Linked DNA regions of Homo sapiens. The protein of the gene in region 1 interacts with the protein of each later gene in a pairwise test. Each region holds a gene or a part of one and is shown on either strand. Other genes may lie near its edges.

The links.
Region 2: the proteins of OR1L3 (region 1) and OTX2 interact in binary tests that used the Homo sapiens proteins (3 or more experiments, as listed by UniProt).

What each region holds. Positions count from the first base shown.
Region 1 is NC_000009.12:122,673,675-122,676,853, forward strand, and holds OR1L3 (olfactory receptor 1L3), read left to right. Parts: upstream 1-1,455; coding exon 1,456-2,430; downstream 2,431-3,179. UniProt on the Homo sapiens protein: Odorant receptor.
Region 2 is NC_000014.9:56,800,234-56,804,060, reverse strand, and holds part of OTX2 (homeobox protein OTX2), read left to right. Parts: intron 1-1,705; coding exon 1,706-2,326; 3' UTR 2,327-3,827. UniProt on the Homo sapiens protein: Transcription factor probably involved in the development of the brain and the sense organs. Can bind to the bicoid/BCD target sequence (BTS): 5'-TCTAATCCC-3'.

The DNA.
Region 1 (3,179 bases):
TGGGAAATAATTAGTCCTTACTGGACATTAAATAAGAGAGCGAATTTATGTTCACCCTAAGTGTAGATTATCTGTATTTATACTCTAAAGTCTGATCTTCCTTTACCCTAGCCAACTCCAGAATTACATTCCCCTGACCTCAGAATATGGATTATCAGCCAGAGAGTAGGAAAGCTTGGGAGAGAATTTTCTCGCAAAAGTATTCTGTCCCCCTCACTCTCTCATTCCCCGTGTTTCTTTTCCCTGTAACTGTTTACATTCAACTCAGTGTTCTCTAAGTGAGTTTCTTGCTTCCATTGTAAATGATGTGGAAAGAAACATCTGGACTTAAAAGAAAAGGTATTCATCAATTACAAGCTAGGTGAGATAACTATCTTGTTACCTAGATGTGGTTTAGCCACTCAGAATCCTTAATCAGAAGATGGCCTGAACTTGATTCAAAGTCTTTATCTGTGGTTCCTGTAATTACCAGCCACAGAGTAAGTAGGAGGAGAAACTTATCAGCCATTCGCTCCCAATCTCTTTCTCTCTTTCTCTGTCTGTCTGTCTGTCTCTCTCTTTCCTTGTATCTGTTCTCTATAGATCTTGCTATGGGTTAAATGTTTATGTCCCCCCAGAAGTCACTTAATCCCCAATGTGATAGCATTTGGAGATGGATATTTGACAGGTAATTTAGGTCATGAGGGTTGGGGCCCTCCTGATGTGATTAATGCCCTTATAAGAAAAGCTTGCTTCCTCCCCCTGCTTTCTGCCATGCAAGACTACAAGGAGAAGACAGCCCTCTGAAAACCAAGAAACAAGCCCTCTGCAGACACTGGATCTGTTGGCAACTTGATCTTGGACTTCCCAGCCTCGTGAACTGTGAAAAGTAAATGTTGTTTAAGCCACCTAGTCTATGATTTGTTTGTTTGTTTGTTTTTTTGAGACCAAGTCTCGCTCTGTCACCCCGGCTGGAGTGCAGTGGTGCAATCTTGGCTCACTGCAACCTCTGCCTCCCAGGTTCAAGCAATTCTCTTGCCTCAGCCTCCCTAGTAGCTGGGACTACAGGCATGCACCACCAGGCCCGGCTAATTTTTTGTATTTTTAGTACAGACAGGATCTCACCATGTTGTCCAGCCTGATCTCGAGCTCCTAACCTCAAGTGATCCACCCACCTCAGCCTCCCAAAGTGCTGGGATTACAGGCATGAGCCACCGCATCTGACCTGGCTATGGTAATTTATTATAGCAACCTGAACTGATTAAGACAGGTATCTACCTCAAAGATCTTTTAAAAAGTGAAAACACACTTTCAGTTCTGATTCTCCATGCTCAGGAAGAAAAATAAACTACAGAGTAAATGCTCTATTAATAACTACTCAGTGTAAGAACAACGTGGAAAGATGCATGTTGTAGATGACATAAGAATTATGTCATTAATTGACAGTGTTGCTTATCTTTAGGTGAGTACAAGTCCATGGGAATGTCCAACCTGACAAGACTCTCTGAATTTATTCTCTTGGGACTCTCCTCTCGGTCTGAAGACCAGAGGCCACTCTTTGCCCTCTTTCTTATCATATACCTGGTCACTTTGATGGGAAATCTGCTCATCATCTTGGCTATCCACTCTGATCCTCGACTTCAAAACCCTATGTATTTTTTCCTAAGCATCTTGTCCTTTGCTGATATTTGCTACACAACAGTCATAGTCCCAAAGATGCTCGTGAACTTCTTATCAGAGAAAAAGACCATTTCCTATGCTGAATGTCTGGCACAGATGTATTTCTTCCTGGTTTTTGGAAACATAGATAGTTATCTCCTGGCGGCTATGGCCATCAACCGCTGTGTAGCCATTTGTAACCCATTCCATTATGTCACTGTTATGAACCGCAGATGCTGTGTGTTGCTACTAGCATTCCCCATCACTTTCTCCTATTTCCACTCTCTCCTACATGTCCTCCTGGTGAATCGGCTCACCTTTTGTACATCAAATGTTATCCATCATTTTTTTTGTGATGTCAACCCTGTGCTGAAACTGTCCTGCTCCTCCACCTTTGTCAATGAAATTGTGGCCATGACAGAAGGGCTGGCCTCTGTGATGGCTCCATTTGTCTGTATCATCATCTCTTATCTAAGAATTCTCATCGCTGTTCTCAAGATTCCCTCAGCAGCTGGAAAACACAAAGCCTTCTCCACCTGCAGCTCCCATCTCACTGTGGTGATTCTGTTTTATGGGAGTATTAGCTATGTCTATTTGCAGCCTTTGTCCAGCTATACTGTCAAGGACCGAATAGCAACAATCAACTACACTGTGTTGACATCAGTGTTGAACCCATTTATCTACAGTTTAAGAAACAAAGACATGAAACGGGGCTTACAGAAATTGATAAACAAGATTAAGTCTCAAATGAGTAGGTTCTCTACAAAGACCAATAAAATCTGTGGACCCTGATTACAAGGTGTGTGTGTGTGTGTGTGTGTGTGTGTTAGCACCTGATGCCACTCTTTTCTTGAAAAAACGTTCCTTCATCTTCACCATTTGTAGCTTCACCTCGTGGTTTTCCACCCTGTGGTCTCTGTCATCGTATGATTGAACAATTAGGATGTCTTGGTATCAATGCCCCAATCACAGACTCACCTCATAATATATCTTAATTCCAGAAAATCACATTCCCTTTACTCTTTGCATATTTATTTGGAGCCTCTCATATTTCTTTGTGTTTATAAATTCATCCAAGTTTGGTCTTTCAATTATCAGAGAATTTTCCTATATACCTATGTAGAAATTTAAATATGTGCAATGATATTATGCACACATAGTCACTCTCTTCTATTTAAAGCTGTCAGGAATTTTTTGCAGGCATGTGTGTATGTATGTACAAGTCTCACCTGCCCATGAGACTACAGGCTATGGTCCCCCTCTCCACCTTTTTAGAGACAGGGTCGTACCCCCCTGTCACCCAGGTTAGAGTGCAGTGGCACTATCATAGCTCACTATAACCTCAAACTCCTGGGCTCAAGCAATCCTCCTCCCTCAGCCGCTCAAGTAGCTAGTACTACAGGTGTGTACCACCACCCCTAGATAATTGTTTTAATTTTTTGTAGAGACAAGGTCTTGCTATGTTACCCAGGCTGGTCTCAGACTCCTGGCCTCAAGTGATCCTCCTGCTTCAGCCTCTCAAAGCACTGGGATTATAGGCG
Region 2 (3,827 bases), on another chromosome or scaffold:
GGCCAGGAAACTATTCTCCTTCTGCCCTTTTTTGCCTGCCCGTCACCACTTAATCCCGTAAGCAAGGGTCTTCAAGGCCCGGGTTGCTGGTGGAGAGAGACCCATCCTTGAGCAGGTTTCAAGAGTAGTCACGTGGTGTTGTAACCCTTCCCTTCCTCTGTATAGAAATCCTCTCCTATTCTCATGGACTTGTACGTGTGAAAGCAGCTTAGCTCTTGGACAGTCCAAGTATTTTTACAGATGAAAAAATAGAGTAAATGACTTGCTCAAGGTCATAACTAAGTTTGGTGGCAGAGTCAGGGTATAGACGCAGCTGGTGCTTTTACCAAATAAATCAACACAAAAAGAATGTATTTTCCTTGACTTCTTAGGGATTGAAGAGAATTTTCTAGTTCTGAGCCATTTAACAGATAAAATATCTACATAATGTCTCTAGTGACACCCCTCTTGTTTTAGTTCCCCTAAACTTGACCTTAAACTGGAGAGGGAAGGTCAACTCCAGCTTGCCTTGTGAGTGAGCCCTGTACAGAATTCTCTGCAAAGTGTTTAGCACATAAACCACATACACACCTGGGCCTCTCCTTCGGCTAGAATATGTTTATGAAAGCGACAGACATCAGTGTCAGCTGCAAATTGGGAAAGGGGCTTTTTCAAAGTAGGTTAGAGGAAGTTTTAGCACTTGCAAGGCTTGAACCAAAGTCCTCACTAGGAGAAAACAAATGGCTCCAAATGGTTGGTGGTCTTGAGCTTGGCCTTGGTGGCCTCACTTTTACCACAGTTACGGCACCCATACAGAGAGCTCATTCAAAAGTTCAGCTAAGGATTTGTCCTCCAGAAAATGCCAGTAGTTCCTCTTCTAAGCCCCCTCGTACACCAATCATAGCTCCTTCATTGCAGAACATGAACAGGGCTGGTAAAGAGAATTGTCAAGATTGCAGCAGGGGGTTGAAGTGGTAAGTCAGTAAACACAGCACAGGAGACTGAGTCTATGTGCTGAGTGGCACTACTCTAACAACACAGACTCGAGTCCCAGAGACTAGCAGGTCTGTGCTCCAGCTCAAAGCAGAGTGCATGTAAGTCACTCCTTTTACCACAAAGAAGCTTTTAGCAAATAGTGGCTTTCAGACCTCTTTCTTCAACAAGATCATGTCTTCCCCTTGGAGCTTTGTTCTGTGAGTCTTTCTAAGAGAGACAGAAGGGTGATGGAACCAACCAACCTCTATATTAGCAGTTGCTTCCTGGAAGATGAACTGTAAATGAATTTAGGCTGTTCCTGTTAGCCTGTAACAACAGAATTGCTTTCTCTCACTTCTCATGTATTTCCCTCCAAAAGACAGAGATACATTCTATTCCTCTGTGAGAGTGTTCCAAAATATAGCTGGGTCTATGTGTATGTGTGTGTTAGAGGCGAAATAAGATAGGAAAGTGATGTGGAGAGTTTTTAGCTATATGATTTGGGGGATTATCTTAAATGTTATTCTGGGCAAGAAATAAGACAGTGTCAAGTGTTTTTAGACAGAGCCTCCCCAACTTTCTTACAAGTCCAGGAGTTTATATGAGAGTACCACATAATAGGTCTTCAGTGGCAGGGGAAATTGTGTGTTTAGCTGATCTGCCCATGTAGGATAGATTTATAATACGGGAGCCATTCTTGTCCTTAAGGAACTATCAAAACCGAGTTAAAGAATTTTCTTTCCCTTCCAAGGTATGGTTTAAGAATCGAAGAGCTAAGTGCCGCCAACAACAGCAACAACAGCAGAATGGAGGTCAAAACAAAGTGAGACCTGCCAAAAAGAAGACATCTCCAGCTCGGGAAGTGAGTTCAGAGAGTGGAACAAGTGGCCAATTCACTCCCCCCTCTAGCACCTCAGTCCCGACCATTGCCAGCAGCAGTGCTCCTGTGTCTATCTGGAGCCCAGCTTCCATCTCCCCACTGTCAGATCCCTTGTCCACCTCCTCTTCCTGCATGCAGAGGTCCTATCCCATGACCTATACTCAGGCTTCAGGTTATAGTCAAGGATATGCTGGCTCAACTTCCTACTTTGGGGGCATGGACTGTGGATCATATTTGACCCCTATGCATCACCAGCTTCCCGGACCAGGGGCCACACTCAGTCCCATGGGTACCAATGCAGTCACCAGCCATCTCAATCAGTCCCCAGCTTCTCTTTCCACCCAGGGATATGGAGCTTCAAGCTTGGGTTTTAACTCAACCACTGATTGCTTGGATTATAAGGACCAAACTGCCTCCTGGAAGCTTAACTTCAATGCTGACTGCTTGGATTATAAAGATCAGACATCCTCGTGGAAATTCCAGGTTTTGTGAAGACCTGTAGAACCTCTTTTTGTGGGTGATTTTTAAATATACTGGGCTGGACATTCCAGTTTTAGCCAGGCATTGGTTAAAAGAGTTAGATGGGATGATGCTCAGACTCATCTGATCAAAGTTCCGAGAGGCATAGAAGGAAAAACGAAGGGCCTTAGAGGGGCCTACAAACCAGCAACATGAAATGGACAAACCAATCTGCTTAAGATCCTGTCATAGTTTTAGATCATTGGTTATCCTGATTTGCAAAGTGATCAAAAGCATTCTAGCCATGTGCAACCAAACACCACCAAAAATAAAATCAAACAAAACTAAGTTGTGAAGGAAGGGAGGGAAGGTCATAGCCTTCTTAAGCAGAGGTGTTCCATTGTTTTAGCCAATCCTTGGTTGAATCTTAGGAATGAACAGTGTCTCAAGCTCATTCACGTTTCATGACCAACTGGTAGTTGGCACTGAAAAAACTTTTCAGGGCTGTGTGAATTGTGTGACTGATTGTCCTAGATGCACTACTTTATTTAAAAAATAATGTTCATAAGGAGTCAATATGTAGTTTAAGAGACAATCAGTGTGTGTCTTATAAATGGTACATCTGTGGTTTTTAATCTGTGCTAGACTTCAAAACTGTGATCTCCTGTTATTGTATGCAACCTTGAACTCCACCTCTGCAGGGGTTCTTCTGTGATTAAATAGGTTATAATTATAAGCAAAATTCAGAGCAACTGAGTACTGATCTAAAAAGATTACCTTTGGCTGGAGGTGAGCTGCACTGAAACTTTACGACAAAATGTCTCTGGACAAAGAGAGTCAGAGAAGAGAAGCAAAAGGACACTAATTCATCTGTAATTTACTGTTGGTAAGCCTAGCAGTAAAGAGACATTGGTCAATTGCTCTGACCCTGATGAATTATTAAACTGAGATCATTGTCGTTTATGCTTGCAGATGTTAAATGGAAAAGTTATATATGCATAAACCTTTTCTTCCTGGATTTGGCAGATATGTATAATTATATTAAAATGGTTCTAGCACAACATTGGGTCCAGTTTAATTTTACACCGCTATTTATGAATAAGAAGCCTACATTCAGCCTTTCCTCCCCAAAACACGTTTTTCTTAGGACAGAGAGTAAATTAGCAAACTTATTTTTACTTTTTTTTTTTGCTAATCTATGCATAAAATAGATATGAATGACAGTGGTAGGTAGACTTTTTGTGACTTTCATCAGGATTGCTCTGAAATTGAGTTTGGAGAGCCTAACAACAAGATCTTGTTTTCCTTGCTTTTCCCTCCCTACTTCAAACCTGAACGATTTCTTAGGCACTTTATTAGAATGTTTTAAAATATATCAAGTTTTTAAGAGGGAGGAGGAGAATTGGAGTATCTCTGAAAACATGAGAATGACAAGAATTTCTTGTTACTATTCTCTTATTTGATTAAGGGGATTTTTTTTTTTTAACTTCCAAAAACTGAGGTAAACATGAGAGGGAGTGTAATCAGAATCTGA